3 linked regions of the Homo sapiens genome follow. The protein of the gene in region 1 interacts with the protein of each later gene in a biochemical or structural test. Each region holds a gene or a part of one and is shown in the gene's direction. Other genes may lie near its edges.

The links.
Region 2: the proteins of CLNS1A (region 1) and WDR77 form a complex in vitro, tested with the Homo sapiens proteins (one study listed by BioGRID).
Region 3: the proteins of CLNS1A (region 1) and PRMT5 form a complex in vitro, tested with the Homo sapiens proteins (5 studies listed by BioGRID and IntAct, with this or other methods).

The regions. Positions count from the first base shown.
Region 1 is NC_000011.10:77,613,550-77,621,309, reverse strand, and holds the end of CLNS1A (methylosome subunit pICln), read left to right. Parts: intron 1-1,614; coding exon 1,615-1,682; 3' UTR 1,683-1,704; intron 1,705-2,622; exon of another isoform or gene 2,623-2,770; intron 2,771-4,614; 3' UTR 4,615-6,780; downstream 6,781-7,760. UniProt on the Homo sapiens protein: Involved in both the assembly of spliceosomal snRNPs and the methylation of Sm proteins.
Region 2 is NC_000001.11:111,439,390-111,446,256, reverse strand, and holds the end of WDR77 (methylosome protein WDR77), read left to right. Parts: intron 1-2,132; coding exon 2,133-2,203; intron 2,204-2,335; coding exon 2,336-2,390; intron 2,391-2,862; coding exon 2,863-2,934; intron 2,935-3,495; coding exon 3,496-3,604; intron 3,605-4,127; coding exon of another isoform or gene 4,128-4,163; coding exon 4,164-4,232; intron 4,233-4,867; coding exon 4,868-5,027; 3' UTR 5,028-6,367; downstream 6,368-6,867. UniProt on the Homo sapiens protein: Non-catalytic component of the methylosome complex, composed of PRMT5, WDR77 and CLNS1A, which modifies specific arginines to dimethylarginines in several spliceosomal Sm proteins and histones.
Region 3 is NC_000014.9:22,920,029-22,926,376, reverse strand, and holds the end of PRMT5 (protein arginine N-methyltransferase 5), read left to right. Parts: intron 1-80; coding exon 81-244; intron 245-1,336; coding exon 1,337-1,498; intron 1,499-1,667; coding exon 1,668-1,745; intron 1,746-1,839; coding exon 1,840-1,898; intron 1,899-1,935; exon of another isoform or gene 1,936-1,984; coding exon 1,985-2,107; intron 2,108-2,193; coding exon 2,194-2,369; intron 2,370-2,969; exon of another isoform or gene 2,970-3,216; coding exon 3,217-3,326; exon of another isoform or gene 3,327-3,408; intron 3,409-3,541; coding exon 3,542-3,635; intron 3,636-3,817; coding exon 3,818-3,934; intron 3,935-4,136; coding exon 4,137-4,201; intron 4,202-5,256; exon of another isoform or gene 5,257-5,320; coding exon 5,321-5,473; 3' UTR 5,474-5,848; downstream 5,849-6,348. UniProt on the Homo sapiens protein: Arginine methyltransferase that can both catalyze the formation of omega-N monomethylarginine (MMA) and symmetrical dimethylarginine (sDMA), with a preference for the formation of MMA.

The DNA.
Region 1 (7,760 bases):
TGTGTGTGTGTGTGTTTGAGACAGAGTCTTGCTCTGTCGTCCAGGCCGGAGTACAATAACGTGACCTCGGCTTACTGCAACCTCTGCCTCCCAGGTTCAAGTGATTCTCCCACCTCAGCCTCCTGAGTAGCAGGGATTACCCACTACTATCGTGCCCAGCTAATTTTTGTATTTTTGTAGAGACGGGGTTTCACCATGTTGGCCAGGCTGGTCTCGAACTCCTGACCTCAGGTGATCCGCCCGCCTCAGCCTCCCAAAGTATTGGGATTACAGGCGTGAGCCACTGCACCCGGCCATGATTCTGTCTTATTTATTTATTTATTTATTTAAGACGGAGTCTCACTCTGTTGCCCAGGCTGGAGTGCAGTGGCATGATCTTGGCTTACTTCAACCTCCACCTCCTGGGTTTAAGAGATTCTTCTGCCTCAGCCTCCTGAGTAGTTGGGATTACAGGCATGTGCCACCATGCCTGGCTAATTTTTGTATTTTTAGTAGAGGCGGGGTTTCACCATGTTGGCCAGGCTGGTCTCTAACTCCTGACCTCAGGTGATCTGCCTGCCTTGGCCTCCACCTTCCTGGTTCAAGCCATTCTCCTGCCTCAGCCTCCCGAGTAGCTGGGATTATAAGCGCCTGCCACCATGCCCGGGTAATTTTTTTGTATTTTTGTTAGAGATTTCGCCATGGGGTTTTGCCATGTTGGCCAGGCTGGTCTCAAACTCCTGACCTCAGGTGATCCACCCACCTTGGCCTCCCAAAGTGCTGGGATTACAGGCGTGAGCCACTGTGCCTGGCCAAGACAACTCTTTCCGTGGGGCTTGTATTAGTCTGTTTTCACACTGCTGATAAAGACATACTCAAGACTGGGCAATTAGCAAAAGAAAGAGGTTTCATTGGACTTACAGTTCCATATGGCTGGGGAAACCTCACAATCGTGGTGGAAGACGAGGAGCAAATCACATCTTACATGGAAGGCAGCAAGCAAAAAGAGCTTTTGCAGGAAAACTCCCCCTTATATAACCATCAGATCTAGTGAAACTTACTCATTATTATGAGAACAGCACGGGAAAGACCTGCCCCCATAATTCAGTTACCTCCCACCAGATCCCTCCCACAACACGTGGGAATTCAAGATGAAATTTGGGTAGGGACACAGCCAAACCATATCAGGGCTCTTGTTTTTTTTCTCTTGTTCCCTCCCCACCTTTTATTTAATGAGATGACAAAAACAGGGAAATAAGCAAAAAGCTTGCTGTACTGATTTTTGTCTTTTCACTTTGTGAGGATAGGGCTGTATACCTTAAAAAGCCTAACAGTAAATACTTAGATCTGTAAAGGGTGAACAATTGATACTGCATTTGAAAGTTCCTACATAGAGTTATTTTAGTATTGAGGGTGAGAATTTACACAGTTAGTGTCGCAGACTGATTTTGATGTGGCCTAAATCCCCAGGTAGCATTTTCTTTCTCAGTTTGTCCCTTCAGACTTTTCCAAAAAGAGGAAAAAGCAATTCTTACCAGCAGAGGGCACTAGCTTCCTTCTGGTAGAAGTTATAAGTTGAATCTACCTGTCTGAAGTGTTCATAGGGATTGCTCAGTAATTAATTTTTTTGTTTAGATGGGATGGAGGTGGATACCACACCAACAGTTGCTGGACAGTTTGAGGATGCAGATGTTGATCACTGAAAATGATTTATGCAAGTTTAAGGTGAGTAGTTCATTTTCTCCCTTGTCGCTGATCATGAAAATCATATGAAATGATTACTTTCTACTTTTTAAAATTCTTTCTTGAGACAGGGTCTTACTCTGTCACCCAGGCTAGAGTGCAGTGGCATGATCCTAGCTCACTACAGCCTTGAACTCAAGCAATCCACCTGCCTCACCCTCCCAAATAGCTGGGACTATAGGCACATGCTTACCACACCCAGCTTATTTTAAAATTTTACGTAGAGACAAGGTCTCACATGTTGCCCAGGCTGGTCTCTAACTCCTGGCCTCAAATGATTCTCCCTCCTCGGCATCCGAAAGTACTGGGATTACAGCTGTGAGCCACTGTATCTGGCCTATTTCTTTTTCCTTCTTTAAAAAAATTTTTCTTCTTTTAAACCTCAGATTGTTCCTGACAATTTATTTGCTACTCCATTATTCTGAGAAATATATTGTCCTTTGCCAGCCTAAGTATTTCAACTATATGTTAGATAATAACTGAAGGTCATGTTCATATCATACAGAGCTAGAACCAGTAATTGTAGTAGTCCTTTATAAGCTGTTGTTAAATTGTTGTCCCTGTCTCCCCACTACAACTTCCTCCTACCTTATAGCATTGTTTTCTTGAATACTGGCTATCCTCCAGTCTTTGAGATGCTCTCGCTAGCCTCCTTTTATTTTACTAAAGCATATAGTAATAGCATGGTAAGATTTATATGTTTTGACTTGACTCTGCTACCACTGTCAGTCATCCAGTTAAGTTATAAGATCCTTTGTTATTCCCTGCAATGATAAATATTTCAGAATTCCTTCTCTTTTCTTCTGATACAGATTTTAGTTCTGAACCTAGTTCTGTAATCATTGGCTTTTCTCCAGTTACAAGTTTTAATTCCTTTACCCCTGTTCTATTTCATTTCAGAAACCAGCCTTTTAAAGTTCCAGTTAGCTTCCAAGTTACTGCTATTGTGAAAACTGTATAACATTGCTTCTTATACTGACCATGAATTGTGATACTGGACCTGTGCTTTCTTCTCACATCCTGCCAGTGGAACTATCAGAAAATAACCTCTTAGAGTTCTATGATTTATATTTTCCCTTAAATACTTAATTTTAATTTCCACATTTACTTTTGTCAGTGGTAGCCATACAGTTTAAAATTAGCAATGTCTTCTCTGTTAAAATCATGTGTTCACATCACTGGAGCTCTGTTAACTTTGATTTTTAGCTCTCACAGTTCCAATTGTCAGTAACTTCACTGTTCTACTTCATGGGAAATCCTTTGATATCAACTTCAGTATTCTTTCCTTATTTCTCATCACATTATAGCATATTAATTTTTTCAGTTCAGTGATACTTGTTTTAGTAACTGTTTTATTGCAATTAGAAAACAGATTTTTGGGTCTTTGGGCTTTCACATATTTCTTTTGAAGAATAGACTATACAGAGAACATCAGCCACTCTATTATTAATCAGAATCATGAGAAACTCATTTGGTATGTCACTAACAGTTAAACAAATGGGATGTTACTGCAGTCCTTGGCAAGAATTCTTAGGATTCTTTTTAATGGTGAAATAGCCACAAACTTTTTAATGAGCTTTGTTTTCTGTTAATTTTATCCTAGAGCTCAGAGGCAGAGAATTATTTTATTCATAACGGTTTTTTTTCTTTTCTTTTTTTTTTTTCTTTTTGAGATGGAATCTCGCTCTGTCGCCCAAGCTGGAGTGCAGTGGTGTGATCTTGGCTCACTGCAACCTCTGTCTCCTGGGTTCAAGCGATTCTCCTGCTTCAGTCTCCCAAGTAGCTGGAACTACAGACGCGCGCCACCACGCCTGGCTAATTTTTGTATTTTTAGTAGAGAGAGGGTTTCACCATGTTGGCCAGGATGGTCTTGATCTTTTGACCTCGTGATCCGCCTGCCTCGGCCTCTCAAAGTGCTGGGATTACAGGCATGAGCCACTGCACCCTGTTTATAATGTATAAACATTATGTATAATGTTTATACATATTCTTCATCTGGATAATTGATCTGAATTCCGAACAATGTCTGTACATTTTTTTTTTTTTGACACGGGAGTCTCGCTCTGTTGCCTAGGCTGGTGTGCAGTGGCGCAACTTGGTTCATTGCAACCTCTGCCTCCCGGGTTCAAGCAATTCTCCTGCCTCAGCCTCCTGAATAGCTGGGATTACAGGTGCCCACCACCACACCCGGCTAATTTTTTTTTTTTTTTTTTTTTTTTTGAGATGGAGTTTCGCTCTTGTTGCCCAGGCTGGAGTGCAATGGTGCAATCGGCTCACCGAATCCTCCGCCCCCCCGGGTTCAAGTGATTCTCCTGCCTCATCCTCCCGAGTAGCTGGGATTACAGGCATGTGCCACCACGCCTGGCTAATTTTGTAATTTTAGTAGAGACAGTGTTTCTCCATGTTTGGTAAGGCTGGTCTTGAACTTCTGACCTCAGGTTATCCGCCTGCCTTGGCCTCCCAAAGTGCTGGGATTACAGGTGTGAGCCACCACACCTGGCTGTGTAAATTTTTAATCATTTAAAATTGTACATGCTTTAAAAGAATGAATAAGGAATAAATAATTAAGAGTAGTTTATGCAACTGTTAATAATTTCAGGATAATGGAACTAGGACTTCTCAGTGCATGAGGTGGGGTGGAGACGGCACGTTAATCGTGGAATCACAACTCTGCCACATACTTGTGTACACCTTTGGACAAGGCATATAACTTATTTAATCCTCACTTCCCCCATCTGTAAAATGGGGAGGATAATACCTACCTTGCAGGGTTGTTGCAGAGGCTAAGATAAAATGTACCTAAGTCCTCTGGCACTCGTGACTAGGCATTCAATAAGTAGTAGCTATTATTATTATCACTACTGTAAACACTGTAAACCTTTTGTTTTTCAGATTCTGCTCCTAAGTGTAGGAGAGAACTTGGTGCCTCTTCCACTCTGGAGTGAAGTTAATGAAAGTCTTTTTCCTTTTCCAAAACCCAACCTGAACCAGTTCTTTCTTGAGACAGACTATACTGAGACAACAAGTTGTCACCAGCAGAAGATAGATAATATGACCTTTATTAACTTGATGAATTAACTTAACCAAGAGGGTATTTGTAGTTTACTATTTACCCTAAAACTTTCTGTGTCTGGGTACCCTCTGAGTAGGCCTATAATTCCTACCTTGACTGTGTGCATCATTTGTAAGCTAGCAGATCTATGTGGTGAAAATGCACAGGAGCTTGGTAGACTGCGGGGGAAAGAGAGAGCTCCTTTCGCCATGTTTTACCAGTCTGCTGTTATAACCTCTTAGGTTGTATCCTTTAATTTCCAGCCTTTTAGGTTAGTTTCTGTAACAGAACAAGTGAGTCTGGGATGAAGTCCTCAAAGTACTTCAAATGGTAATTGTTTTGTTTTTGTAATAGCTTAACAAATAAACCTAGGTTTTCTATATTACTTTGCTCTCATTCTTGACTAAAACCATTAATGAGAAATGTTTTTTAAAAAATAATGCTGGCAAATATGAGAATTTTGTTGGCTTTATTTTTGTTTACTTGTTGAGAAGATGAACATGAAATTAATAAGAAAATATAGTTATAGCTTCTGGCAAGTATTTAGTAAGGCAAAGATTTAACACATTTCAGGGGATTTCTGCCACTTCCTTTTAGATCAGCAGTAATTTCTTATATTTATCAACTCTCAATTTTTAGTTTTCATAGATACCTGGGTATTATAAGGCTGATTTGTAATTACTGATTTATACTTGGACTTTTGAAATCATTATGTGTCCTTAAAAATAAGGTTATACAAGCTAACCTTCTTAACAGGATCACATGGCTAATTAGTGACTAAACTGATGTTTGGTACCACTCAGCCCAGTGTTCATTTCAGCACTGTCACTTGGTTTCCCTTATCTTGCAAGGTAGACTGAAAAAAAACGAATTTTCCTTTTTCTAACCAGACTCTCAGAATTTCTGAGTCTGTTAACAATAGGCAAGTAAAACAGCCACTTGAAATGGAAACTAAAATTTACTGAGACCTCTGTACTAGCCACTGTCCTGAGTTCTTTATTATGTATTATAATATTCTTAATTATCTTATGAGATACGCTTTTATCCCACTTTATAGTTGAGGAAACTGAGTTATAGAGAGAGGTAAAATAACTTGCTTAAGGTCATGTAGATAGTGAATTGTGATTTTTGAGCCTGTGCTTTAAAACATCATACAGCCTTACCACCTACCAGCAGCAGAAAGCATGCACACTCTCCCCACTGCTGCAGGGTTTCAGTGTTAACATTTCAATGGCCAGTACAAGAGCTTCCCCAGTTTCTCTGCTACCCATCTGAGCAACACCCATAATTCTATCCTAGAAGTTTGTCCATTCTTCAGTAATCAGTCAGGACATTCTCACAGGCTAATATTAGAAATTCCATTTGAGTTCCTTTTAAAAGGAACAAATTTATAATTGTGACTTTCCATGAACATAAATTGCTCTGATAGCAAAATGTCGAGAAGATTCAGAGTGTACTTGGTTTCTTGTTGGTGTTGCTGTGGTCAATGCAATATGCAAAAAGGCAGGAGACCAAAGCATGTGGGCACCTCTCTGGGCTTATTTCCTCATTAGACTAAGTGACTTTCAAAGATTGAGCTGTAACATTCACTAGATAGTTAGAACCGTAGCATTGAGAAAATAGAAGCTGAGAAAAAAGAGCAGGTCAGGCTTTTAAAAGATAAAATTTATAATGATCAGCCAGACAATATTTATTGATTTCATTTGAGCCTAATTTTAGGGTTGCTGGAATTGTTTTCTTTGTGTGTTCCTGATGTAGAGACACTTTAAAGGTACATAGACATTTCCCCTCCAAAATGTAAGTCATCTAAATGTTCCTAAAAGCTAGGGTTAATGGTTCTCTGTTCTAGGTTCTTCATTTAAAAAATGTATTCATTAAGATATGGTCCCAGCCGGACGTGGTGGCTCACACCTGTAATCCCAGCACTTTGGGAGGCTCAGGTGGGCAGATCACTTGAGGTCAGGAGTTTGAGACCAGCCTGGCCAATACGGTGAAAACCCATCTCTACTGAAAATACAAAAATTAGCCAGCCATGGTGGTGGGCACCTGTAATCCCAGCTACTCAGGAGGCTGAGGCACAAGAATCACTTGAACCCAGGAGGCAGAGGTTGCAGTGAGCTGAGGCCATAAGCTTGTTTAAATCTTTATAGGGGCTGGGCACGGTGGCTCATGCCTATAATCTCAGCACTTTGGGAGGCTGAGGTGGGTCGATCACCTGAGGTCAGGAGTTCCAGACTAGCCTGGCCAACATGGTCAAACCCTGTCTCTACAAAAATACAAAAAATTAGCTGGGCGTGGTGGTGGGGCACCTCTAATCCCAGCTACTTGGGAGGCTGAGGCAGGAGACTCCCTTGAACCTAGGAGGCAGATGTTGCAGTGAGCTGAGGTCACACCGTTGCATTCCAGCCTGGGCAACAAGAGCAAAACTCCATCTCAAAAATCAAAAAAGGTTATGTGGTTATGTATTTTTGAGGTTCTGTTAGGAGCTTCCTCAATATTGGTAAAGGTGAGAGATTATGTGCAGATGATCATAATATACAGGTTGAGTATTCCTAATCTGAAATCTGAAATTCCCCAAAATCTGAAACTTTTTTGAGTGCTAACATGATGCTCAAAGGAACTGCTCATTGGGGCATTTTGGATTTCAGACTTTTGGATTAGGGATGCTTAACCAGTATAATGCGAATTATTCCAAAATTTTAAAAACATTCCAAAATCTGAAATACATTTGATCCCAATAATTTTGCTTAAGGGATATTCAATCTGTATAGTCCTTTACTTTTAGAAGAAGGCAGGTATGATTACTTACTGCTCAGAAATAATAGATACTTAGAATTTATCTGCAGGATTTCAGATGGGTTCACTATTACATACCTGATTATCATGCACATCCTGTTTTAAAAGTATAGAATGGATGAATCCATATCTGGGACTCATCTTTTGTGACCAATAACTGAATTCTAAGCATTGTCTCTCATGGGGATCC
Region 2 (6,867 bases), on another chromosome or scaffold:
CAAGGTTTAGATGCTGGGGGATCACTGTGGTTCTCTCAATGGCTAAGTGCCTTTCCCTGCCATTTCTAACTTCAAAGTACATGACTAAGTTATAGGCCAGAGAAATCACTGACTCATATCCAAGGTCCAGTATCCTGGACCCTCAGGGTCACTTGGAAATAGTTTTACAATAATGTTGAATGCCCAGCTGTGCGCAGTGGCTTAACGCCTGTAATCCCAGCACTTTGGGAGGCTGAGGCGGGTGGATCATATGAAGTCTAGGAGTCAGAGACTAGTCTGGCCAACATGCCGAAACCTTGACTCTACCAAAAAGTACAAAAATTAGCCAGGCGTAGTGGTGCACATCTGTAATCCCAGCTACTTGGGAGGCTGAGGCCCGAGAAGTGCTTGAACCCTGGAGGCGGAGGTTGCAGTGAGTCGAGATCACGCCACTGCACTCCAGCCTGGGCAACAGAGTGAAACTGTCTCAGGGAAAAAAAAAAAGTCAATGTTCTATGTCTATTATATTTGCTTTTTATTTCTTAGACATATGATGTGCTTTCCTGGTTAATGCTAACTCTTTTTCAGCATTTCTGCCATGCAGCCTTTTTGTTAGTTCTTTGTGTTTGTGTCTTATTCCCCCTGCTGAATTCCAAATCCTTTATTATTTTTCTATTTTTTGTAGAGACAGAGTCTTGCTATGTTGCCCAGGCTGGTCTCAAATTCCTGGGCTCAAGTGGTCTCCTGCCTTGGCCTCCCAAAGTGCTGAGAGATACAGGCATGAGCCACTGCACCCTGCCCCAAAACCTTTGAGGGTAGAGGAACCATGTATTCATCTTTTGTACACCACCATGGTGCTTGTCCCAGAGCTTTGCTTTTTTCAAGTGAGCAATAAATTCCTTTTCTTACTTCTTATCCTGTTGGCTTTCTATGAATTCTAGGGCTAGGAAAGAACTATGGAAACTGGTTTAATTCCATCCTTCTGCCTCAGGGAAGGGCCACATTCAGACTACCTGGGAAAGTCTGGTAAAATGACTGTAGAAAAGGTTTCCACAGCTTCTAATTAACATGTAGCAGTGACTTTAAAGTTTTTTACATGTAGACCTCCTAAAACAGTTTTGAAAATCTGTGCCCCCTCATACATTTTTAAACTGATACCTAAAAATGCTTATTTAAGTAGTTGCAGAGAAGGTAATTTCTGGCATATAATTTATTGTGTGCTTATTTCAAGCATATATTTGTCAAAATTTTAGATTCGCAGGTTAACGCTACTTAGTTTGCATGAATGTCTACCAAACAGCCTAACTGGCAAAAGCCAGTCTGCATTGTAAAGCCAGTGGACCAAGATAGACTAAATTTTCTGTCAGAAAAAGTCTGACTTTGTTTTTAAATTCAGATAAAGTTGTTGAATATGTCCTTATCACAATGATCTATCATATTTTTTAGTTCTCATTATTAGACAGAAACAGAGTTAAGTCACAGAGCCATACTTGTGTTTGTGGTGTGACTGAAACAAGATCAGCCCCCTTCATTGAATTTTACCTAGATGCTCTTTCTTTTTGCTCTTTGGTTCTTATGGAAAAGCCCCTTTTGTCCCTTAGTTTAGAACCCTTATATTTTTATACCCCTGAGCATTGTAGCGTGGAAAGATCTGGGATGAATGACAGGTATGTGTTCTTTCTATGAAGTGGGAGAAGAGTGATTGAAAACAGAGGCAGTTCAATTTTAAGAAAGAGAACATTAGAGAAATTGGCTCTCTTAATACTATTAGCGCCCAGAACTCCCTCAAAAGTTTTTGTATACTACTTGGAGGTGTGTGTACTCCAGTATGAAGACTGCTATTCTAGAATTATTTAGCCCTCACGTCTAGGATGCCTAAACTGGAAATTCCTTTGTTATTCTTACTAAGCCCCTAATTTCTCATTCATTATCTTCACTAATACGTTTTTTTTTTACAAGGCTTTTTAGGTTTTATAAGTCTATAAACTTCTCCTCTTAGCTTTTGTCTAATCCATAATCTCCCACAAAATTTGTTAAATTGCATCATGAGACCAGCCCTCCCTCCCTCCTGCCCCTTGATTATTCCTGGGCTGGCCCTCTAGTAATGCTTCAGCTTGTTTTCTATCATATTTCTCTTTCTCTCTCCTTTATAGCTCATGCTGCTCAGGTCACTTGTGTTGCTGCCTCTCCTCACAAGGACTCTGTGTTTCTTTCATGCAGCGAGGTAAGAGATAGCTCCTTCTTCCCTAAACACACTCCAGCCATCCATAGGCCAAAGTCTCTAGTGGGGAGACTTTCTGGCCTGCAACTGCTCCTTTGGATTATGAAATCCTTTTTCTGTTCCACCTTCCTCTAGGACAATAGAATTTTACTCTGGGATACCCGCTGTCCCAAGCCAGCATCACAGATTGGTGAGTCTGAGATTCATTGGTGGGAGAATAGTACTTGGAACCCTGATAGAAGAGACTGTCTTTGGCCAGTGTCAAAGCATAGTTGCTAGATGCCCAGTGTAGTTACTGTGACATGAGTGACATAATCTCCTTCTTTTCCAGTGAGGCTCTGCTAACCCCATTCTGTGCAATGAATACCAAGAGGAAGGGCCAGTTCCTGGGTGGGTGATTTACTTTATTAGATGGTAGGACAAAGGGGCCAGAATTGTTATCGTCATGATTCGTGCCTGAAACTTGCCTGTGACTCGTGTCCAGAAAGGGCAGGAGGCTGCTGGGATAAATGGTTATGAGGCTCAAGGATGAGGACACTGCTGCCTTAGCAGGGTTTGGGAAATCAAATAAAGGTGCTCCCAGGATTTAGAGTGATATCATTTGAGAAACTGCTTCTTCTGTACTCTGAGTTTTGGTCCAGACCCTCGTCTCTCCTTTGCAGGCTGCAGTGCGCCTGGCTACCTTCCTACCTCGCTGGCTTGGCATCCTCAGCAAAGTGAAGTCTTTGTCTTTGGTAAGGCAGCGTGTCAGACTTCATATTGACTCTGGGAAAGGGGAGGAGGAAAAAGAAAGAGCTGACTCCACAACACACAAGGCCCTTGTTGCTCAGTCTTAGCCCTCATGGACACTAGATGAATTATGAATTGAGGGTGGGGAGGTGGGGTGATGCCAACGTAGTTTTAGTGTAGTTTTGGAGAACATGATTATTTTCCCAGTGGATTTGATTTTTGATTGATTGATCCAGCTTCTGTATTCTGGGCATGGCTATAAGTCAGTGATCCACAAAGCAAGTGGATTGCTATATAGCGAATTCTGTCCTACTGTGGGTAGGTGTAGCGCTATCGTGGTCATGAGGCTGTGTATATGGTGACATAGTTTGTGGTTAAAATAATAACTGCTTCGTTCATTAACTTAATTTTCACAATGATCCAGTGACTTATTATTCCTACTTTGCAAAAGAGAAAACTGATGCTCAGAATGGTTAACTTTTACAAGCTCGAGGAACTAGGATTCAAGTCTTTGGCACAAAAGTCCATGCTCTTAATCACTATGACATGTTCCTTCTCTTCTACAGGTGATGAGAATGGGACAGTCTCCCTTGTGGACACCAAGAGTACAAGCTGTGTCCTGAGCTCAGCTGTACACTCCCAGTGTGTCACTGGGCTGGTGTTCTCCCCACACAGGTACTGTTCTTTGTCATCAGGGGCCTGATGGGTATAAATGGGAACCGTGAGGGTGTGTGTGTATGTTTTCAAAGCATTAGCTGATGAAGTAGTTCCTTAAAGCAGACAGTGTTCTAGCTGAGGTTTCGGAACATCGAAGATCTCTTAAGTGTGAAGTAGAATCCTTTGGGAGTCAAAGGATTTTTCAGATTAGATGGTTTCTGTCTGAAATGGCTAAAATGTGATTTCATTCCTGCCCAACACCCAAAATGGTTAATGTTGTGGGCTTCTAGGACTGTGAGATTGGAAAAGCCTGTGTTTCTGGGTTATTGCTGAAGCTATAGAGAGGGACCAGATGGGGTGGTTAGTTGCCAGGATGGTTGTCAACCCTAACTTTGCTTCATTTCCCTCATCTTTACTTGAAACTTTTAGTGTGGACTTGTAGTAGCCAGATTAGCCAAAAGTGGGAATCAGGCTGCCTCTCCTGGGTCACTTTACAGTGGCGGCAGGGCCGGCCCAGTTAAGGTTTTGTCTTGGGATCCAGGCTGGACCTTTCACAACCCTCTCCTCCATCTGATAGTGTTCCCTTCCTGGCCTCTCTCAGTGAAGACTGCTCACTTGCTGTGCTGGACTCAAGCCTTTCTGAGTTGTAAGTGTGAAGTGGAATCCTTTGGGAATCAGGGAAGGGGAGCAGTGGGTGGGCGAGTCATTTTCCTCTTCAGAAAACTGTGTTGTGCTTTTGGAGAACAGATTCTCCATCTGTATCCGAAGGGACTTGGTAATGGAAGCAGGCTGGCTGTTGACCCTGTCCATTCCTGGGGCACATTCACAACCCCAAGGACAAGCCGTGTCCTTGGTAGAGGGGGGTGGTAGGTGAAATTTTTAAGTCTAGCCCTCCAGCGCTCTCCCACAAGGGGGCGGCAGTCTACCCTCTCACATAAAGAACTGCGTATGAAATGCAGCCTGCTACAGGGTAAAAGGCAGCACCTGGAAGACCTGAATTGTACTTCCCTCCTTGCCGTGATTTGCTGCCTGTTACTGCCCCTCATCACTGTCTTGTTCTATCCAGCATTTCTTCATCTATGAAAATAGAAGACTGGATTGGATGACTGATGACATCCACTGTGGATAGCTACACTGCTATCCTGGCGATGAGGCCATACAGTTGGTGAAATGTGTGTAACACACCCAAAAAATGTGCCCCAGATGTGTTGGGTTCTCTTTTTTTCTCCAGGTCTGCTTTTCTTGTCTCTACTCTGCCCCGACTTTTTTTCTTTCTTCTAGGTTTAGAAGCCAAGCCCACAGAGACTTTGTGAGAGATGCGACTTGGTCCCCGCTCAATCACTCCCTGCTTACCACAGTGGGCTGGGACCATCAGGTCGTCCACCACGTTGTGCCCACAGAACCTCTCCCAGCCCCTGGACCTGCAAGTGTTACTGAGTAGATTGGATTTAAGACAAAAAGCAAGTCCCCCATGAGTGTCCACTTCTTTGCCCTGCCCTCTCAGCTTGTGAGACAACACAGGAGCCTTCTATAGTATGTTGATATGCTAGATCTGTGCCGTTAATAGGCATCGTCTCTCAGCCTGAGGGAGGCTGGATTCTGGGTTCCTGTAGTCACAGGGAGGAAAAGCTTTCTTAAAAATGGACATGTATGTGCGTGTGAGTGTGTGTGTAGATTTATAGTTTTTGGTAGTGGCAGGAATAAAAAAAATCCATCCTACATCTTCCCTAAGCACTGCCTCTCTCTCACCCCCCAAAACAAGTTGACGAAAGGGTTTTATGTAGCTGTCTATGAGGAATTGGCCGTGTCTGGGTGGGTTATGGGATGTGGGCATCCCTGGGTTCTTGGAAGCAGCTCTTATGCTACTCATAGAGATGGGATTGACTTTATTTTTTTATAGTGCTTAATTCACCATTATGAGAAATGCTTCCAGTCACAAAAATGCAGCCCAGCTCACTCTGAGGAAGAAGCAGGACTTGGTACGGTTTTACACAACTCCTTACCATTAAACTGAATCAGAAATCCATTTTCTGGCTGAATAAAAAGTTTGGCTTGCCTGTGTAATGCCCACTCCCTTCCCCCTGGCTCCCTAGTGATGGGACATATATGAGAGAGAAGTGTTTTTCTATCATAGACACCATAGGGGAAAGTTTGGGGATGAAGGAGAGCTTAAAGGTGTTTCAATTAAGTTAGAAAACTGACACAGGCTGTTGAGAATTCTTTGCCACTTTTCCCACCCCAAAACAGCATGGGGCCTGACATCTTCTGCCCTGGTCCCCTTTCTCTTGATGTGGAAAGTCTGAATGCAGTATTTATAGACTTCTAAGGTTTTAAAATCCAGTATCAAGAAGAAAATCAGAAATACTGGTTGGTGAAATAAAGAGTTTAGGCATTGTTGGCCTGTCTTTTTTGAAGCATGTGTGTTATGTGTAGTTAGATATATTTCACTTATGTGAGTCATCATGGTGTTGGTCTTGTAGCCCATTATTTTTCCTGTGCTTCCCCAGCTTCCCAAAGTAGCTAGTTAGAACTTAAGGTAAATATTTATTCTTGGGTTGGTGGAGTGGATATTGCCAGTTAGGAGTCATGGATCAATTACTGATTATATTGAAAGTAAATATAATCAATTATGTACTTTTGAGCTTTGCAGGTTCAATTTAGGTAAAAATCACATTATGAAACTGGGAAAGTCTGAAGGAATATGGGCAAAATATTTCTCAGTAAAGCTTCCATGCTTCACCCTTGACATGATTACCCTTGAGTAAAACATGGGAATTTGTAGTTGTGTGATCCTCTGGCGTTGATGTGGAGTAGGAATAAAGTCTTGCATCATTTTTATAATGTGGGAGGAAATAGAATGGGTAGGTACAATCACTTAAGTTCTGCCTCTCGAAGATAAAACTTTAATTTTGTGGACACTTAGAGAAAGTAAGGGGTGGGGGAGCTTGAGGTGAGTAGGAATTTGCATAGCCCTTTTCTTCCTGGACTTAAGAATGATGGAGAAAAAACTCAGTGAAAGAGATAAGGAAGCAAATGTGTGGAAATGTGTGATAAGGAAGGAAATGTGTCAAGGTGGTTACAATATGGAAGGGAAGCATAGGTTTTTTTTTTCTTTTGTTGAGATGGAGTTTCACTCTTGCTGCCCAGGCTAGTGTGCAGTGGCATGATCTTGGCTCACTGCAACCTTCGCCTCCTGGGTTCAAGCAATTCTCCTGTCTCAGCCTCTTGAGTAGCTGGGATTACAGGCTAATTTTTGTGTGTTTAGTAGAGACAGGGTTTCA
Region 3 (6,348 bases), on another chromosome or scaffold:
GTAAACAGATTTTGCGCAAAGGAGCAAGGAAGGGTTTCTTGCCTGGCAGTGGTTGACAGTTTTTCTTTTGCCTCATGTAGCTCTTGAAATTGGGGCTGACCTCCCATCTAATCATGTCATTGATCGCTGGCTTGGGGAGCCCATCAAAGCAGCCATTCTCCCCACTAGCATTTTCCTGACCAATAAGAAGGGATTTCCTGTTCTTTCTAAGATGCACCAGAGGCTCATCTTCCGGCTCCTCAAGGTGAGTGGTAGGAGGGTTCTAAAGGTAGTCCAGCTATACATCTTGCCTTATTTACCTGTGTATGATCGTTTTTTCCTGTGAGGCTGACTCTTTTTCTTTGGTTTCTGGGGAGCAATTTCAGTGAAGTTGGGAATCTTGAGAACAAAAAGGTAAATGCCAGTAGTAGCCCTAGAAACCTTTCAAAACAAACCAAACCTCATGAGAACTTTGCAGAAGGTTTCATTTAGGAAGTTACAGCAAGGATCCATGAGGCTGTTTGGGTGTTGATACTTTCATGGCATAAGAGGGCTTTTTCTTTTTTCTTTTTTTTTTTGAGACAGGGTCTCACTCTGTTACCCAGACTGGAGTGCAGCCATACCATCTCAGCTCACCAGAACCTCTGCCTCCCAGGCTTAAGCGATTCTTCTGCTTTAGCCTCCTGAGTAGCTGGGATTATAGGAATGCACCACTACTGCCCGGCTAATTTTTGTATTTTCAGTAGAGACAGGTTTTATCATGTTGGCCAGGCTGGTCTTGAACGCCTGACCTCAAATGATCCACCCGCCTCGGCCTTCCAAAGTATTGGGATTACAGGCGTGGGCCACCACGCCCGGCCAAGGGGGCTTTTTATAAGTTTACTGAAGCCTCATGCTGCCTTTGTTGGTATTGGGACAGACGCTAGAGAACTGTTGGTCTGGGCCAGGTGCAGTGGCTCGCGCCTGTAATCCCAGGACTTTGGGAGGCTGAGGCGGATGGATCATCTGAGGTCAGGAGTTTGAGACCAGCCTGTCCAACATGGTGAAACCCCGTCTCTACTAAAAATACAAAAATTAGCCAAGCATGGTGGCACGCACCTGTAGTCCCAGCTACTTGGGAGGCTGAGGCAGGAGAATTGCTTGAACCTGGGAGGTGGAGGTTGCAAGTGAGCCAAGATCACGCCATTGCACTCCAGCCTGGGCAATAGAGCGAGACTCCATCTTTTTTTTTAAAAAAAAAAAAAAAGAGAACTGTTGATCTGGGCCTTATTTTACACTAGGGCTCTTTGGCCATATACCATAATATTCCAGAATCTTGGTTTGAGGGCTGTGTCTGATGGTCTGACTTTTCTCACAGTTGGAGGTGCAGTTCATCATCACAGGCACCAACCACCACTCAGAGAAGGAGTTCTGCTCCTACCTCCAATACCTGGAATACTTAAGCCAGAACCGTCCTCCACCTAATGCCTATGAACTCTTTGCCAAGGGCTATGAAGACTATCTGCAGTCCCCGCTTCAGGTGGGTCTGGAGTGCACTTAGAGGAGGAAGGTGGGATGGAAAATGTTTCTTGAGAATATATGCCTCCAAATCTTACTAAAACTCAGAAAGCAGTGGAAAGTTTTTGATATTTTAGTGCATTGTCCTTTGCCAGAAACTGGCTAACTTTGTCCTTTTCCTCATTCATCAGCCACTGATGGACAATCTGGAATCTCAGACATATGAAGTGTTTGAAAAGGACCCCATCAAATACTCTCAGTACCAGCAGGTACTGTGTGGTGCCCAGGGTGAGGAAAGCACAGGGCCAGCATGACCTGGGGAGGATGGGATTACAACCATGGGATATTCTCTCCTCCCTCCAGGCCATCTATAAATGTCTGCTAGACCGAGTACCAGAAGAGGAGAAGGATACCAATGTCCAGTGAGTGCTTTCCCCTCAATCTCAGGGACTTGCATACCTATATCTGTATATGCCAAGTCTGCTTGACTCTTCCCTTTCTTTCTTAGGGTACTGATGGTGCTGGGAGCAGGACGGGGACCCCTGGTGAACGCTTCCCTGCGGGCAGCCAAGCAGGCCGACCGGCGGATAAAGCTGTATGCTGTGGAGAAAAACCCAAATGCCGTGGTGACGTGAGTAGCAACCTGCTTGCTGGGAAGTTAGTCCTCATTGCCAAATTTCCTTAACATCTCTCCTTACCTTATTGTCTCTGTTTCAGGCTAGAGAACTGGCAGTTTGAAGAATGGGGAAGCCAAGTGACCGTAGTCTCATCAGACATGAGGGAATGGGTGGCTCCAGAGAAAGCAGACATCATTGTCAGTGAGCTTCTGGGCTCATTTGCTGACAATGAATTGTCGCCTGAGTGCCTGGATGGAGCCCAGCACTTCCTAAAAGGTGCCCCCAGGTTGGGGTGTAGGTGGAGGGTGATGATGGGTGAGACAGCAACCTGGGAGGAGGGTACAGGGTTTAGGGGAAAGTGGGTTGGACCTGGGTCACATCATATGAGTTTGAGAGCCACTGCTTCACTGCCTCTGTGCCCCTAGCAAATGAAGTCATCTCTCCAAACCTTAGTGTTCATATTTGTAAAATGAAGGGAGTGGGCTGGGCGCGGTGGCTCATGCCTGTAATTGCAGCACTTTGGGAGGCCAAGGCGGGAGGTCAGGAGTTTGAGACCAGCCTGGGCAACATGGCGAAACCCCATCACTACTAAAAATACAAAAATTAGCCAGGCGTGGCGGTGCACGCCTGTAATCCCAGCTACTCGGGAGGCTGAGGCGCGAGAATCACTTGAACCTGGGAGGAGAAGGTTGCAGTGAGCTGAGATTGTGCCACTGCACTCCAGCCTGGGCAACAGAGCGAGACTCCATCTCAAATAAATAAATAAATAAATAAATAAATAAATAAATATGACATATGTACCCTGAGCTTAGCTTTCATCAGGAACTTTTGTGGGACTTTGTGACCCCACAAAAGTTAAGAACCACCAGATTAGACTATCTTGGGTTCTTTCAGTTTTAATCTGTGTGACTCTGTAAATTAACCTAGTAGTGGAATCCTCCATGACAGTAGTTGGAAGCAGGCTGGCTTAGTAATGTGACAACATGCATTTGTCTCTTTCTTCCATGCCCATGCCAACGTTGGTTGGTTTTGACATGGGAGGTTTGATCCTTCTGATCCTTCAGTTAGTACAGACATACCATTTCCCTCCCTCTGGAACTAATTTGACTCTCCTGCTGTGCAGATGATGGTGTGAGCATCCCCGGGGAGTACACTTCCTTTCTGGCTCCCATCTCTTCCTCCAAGCTGTACAATGAGGTCCGAGCCTGTAGGGAGAAGGACCGTGACCCTGAGGTAAAGAACCACTCTCTCTGGAAAGAAGTGGTACTCTTTAGTCCTCTTCTTTTTCTGTATTTGCATCAGCTATTTTCTTCTGCTGGGGATGAAGAGGTGAAGGAGAAGTTAGGGATTGGGGAAGCACTAAAGTAAAACTTTTTTTAATCCTTGGGGAAGTAGTTCTCTCTTGTGTGTCTTCCCCAACACTCTCTCTCTCTTTCTGTCTCTGACAGGCCCAGTTTGAGATGCCTTATGTGGTACGGCTGCACAACTTCCACCAGCTCTCTGCACCCCAGCCCTGTTTCACCTTCAGCCATCCCAACAGAGGTAGGTTCTTTTATGGCTGTCCTCTGACTAGAGGGGTACGGGCTTCTTCCTTCCTCCTGCTTTCTTCCCTTACTGTCCCTAGTCTGCCTTATCTACTCTTCCTTTCCTGGGTCTTGCTCATGCTTTATCAAGTTGTCTAGAGCTTCTGGCCCCTTGTCACCCACATAATTATTTCCTGACAGATCCTATGATTGACAACAACCGCTATTGCACCTTGGAATTTCCTGTGGAGGTGAACACAGTACTACATGGCTTTGCCGGCTACTTTGAGACTGTGCTTTATCAGGACATCACTCTGAGTGAGTGTCTATGGCAGTAGATGGCAGAGTATGAGGGTGTGCTTCCTGGGCAGCTTATATGTACATGTGTCATTTAGATTTATGGGGGGCCCAGTGCTCAATGAATGGAGATCTTTGTGTGATTAGAGAAGAGACCCTCTTCAGCATAGGCAAAAGTCACAGCCATGGAGACCTCTGTTTTTTCATTATTTTGTCCACACAGGTATCCGTCCAGAGACTCACTCTCCTGGGATGTTCTCATGGTTTCCCATCCTCTTCCCTATTAAGGTAGGAACTGCTTTTAAGACTCTCTAGTTAAGCAGTAACCTTTGCCTTTGGTGTTGTGCTTCTTTCCTTCTCCCAGGAAGATAGTTGACTATGACTCATGTTCTCCTGATTTCATATGCTCTTGGATCCCAGTGGTAGGTGTTGGGAGTATTTGGAGTGGCCTTCTGCCTGGCTTTCCCGCATCTACTCTGGCTACTCTTCTGTCTGTTCTCTACTTTGAGCAAGAGTCATCTTTTAAAAACTCAAATTTGATCTTATCTCTCTTGCTGTCTTTTTTTTTTTTTTTTTTTTAAAGAGACGGAGTCTCACTCTGTCGCCCAGGCTGGAGTGCAGTGGCACAATTTCGGCTCACTGCAAGCTCCGCCTCCCGGGTTCATGCCATTCTCCTGCCTCAGCCTCCCTGAGGCTGAGATTACAGGTGCCAGCCACCACACCCGGCTAATTCTTGTATTTTTAGTAGAGACGGGGTTTTACCGTGTTAGCCAGGATGGTCTCGATCTCCTGACCTCATGATCCGCCCACCTCAGCCTCCCAAAGTGCTGGGATTACAGGCGTGAGCCACCGCGCCTGGCCTGATCTTATCTCTCTTTTTTGCTTAAAACTCTTCAATGCCTTCCCATTGTCTTTAGGATAAAAGTCAAAATCTGGGACATTGCTTGTAAGACTTGATGTGATCGAGTGTTTGCTTGCCTTTGCAGCTACTGTCCCCTTGCTTACACTGCTTCAGCCTTATGGACCTTCTTTTTGTTCTAATTGTCTATCTTCTTTCCTACCTCAGGCTTTCATGCCTTTCTCTTGCCTGTAGAGTTCTTTGCTTGTCTCTTCACACAGTTAACCTATCTTCTAGGTCTTCTTTAAACATTTTTATTGTGAGATAAACTTTCTCTGATCTCCTAGACTAGGTTAGTGTTCCCTTTCATAGGTGTTTTTCTGACTCTGTACATGTTCACAGCTCTCACCACACCTTTGATTATTTGTGTTCTGATAGGCTTCAAATAACTTTCATGAGGGTTGGGACAGTCTTGTCATGTTTATCATTTTATCTCCACACCTACCTTAATACATTGCCATGTATAATTCATAGCTTCACCCTGAACCTTCCTGTCTTTCTTCTTACAGCAGCCCATAACGGTACGTGAAGGCCAAACCATCTGTGTGCGTTTCTGGCGATGCAGCAATTCCAAGAAGGTGTGGTATGAGTGGGCTGTGACAGCACCAGTCTGTTCTGCTATTCATAACCCCACAGGCCGCTCATATACCATTGGCCTCTAGCCCTGCGTGCCAAGTGTCCAGAGCCTTGGAAGCAGCTTCAGGTTCTGCTCCTGTAGTACAGAAGGTGCAGTACATCTATGGGCTGTGATTCCCCTTGCCCATCAGAGAGGAGCATTTCAATCTGCTTTCCTGCCTTACATCAAGGTGGGCAAGGGATTATAATTAATTGCAGGGCTCAAGCCACCAATCTATGAAGACCTCAGGCCAGGGGGTGAGGAATTAGTGCTGGATTTGAAGCTACGCACTCAGCCTCAAGAACTCCCTGGAATATCCCTGAGAACATGGGGTTTGAACGGATTTTCAGCCTTTTTCTGTTCTTGTTTTGATGGTTTTGTGTAAGAGGAAATACAAATAAAGTTATAGCCCTTTACTGCACGACCATGCTGCCCCCTGCCACTATTTTCCCACACCTCACTTAGACCCAGGCATGTTCAGATCTGTCCTCTTAGCCTATCCAAGACCCAAAGGGGCCTAGTTGTATTCCCTACTTAGGAAGCTGAGCAATGACTATTGTAGTCCTGGATATAGGCCTTTCTGACCAGCTACAGTGAGCTCTTGTCCATTAGAACCTACAGTTAGGCTTTTCTCTGGGGAGGAGGCATAGAGTTTGCCACCTTGGAAAAAGATGGAATAGTGAGTGAAGCCAGTTTCTCTTCTGTATTCTTGAGCTACTGCACGGGCAACTGGTTACCTCTCCTTTGTTACCTCTTGGGAAGACTGGAATCCATCCAGGAATCTCCAGCAAGAAGCTACCTGTTTTTTTTGAATAAAACCACAGGGTTACAGTTTGAAGTCCTAAGAGATCATCTAGTCCAATTTTCCATTTTACAGAGGGGGAGTTTGAAATGGGTACAATGATGTGATATTAGTATCCA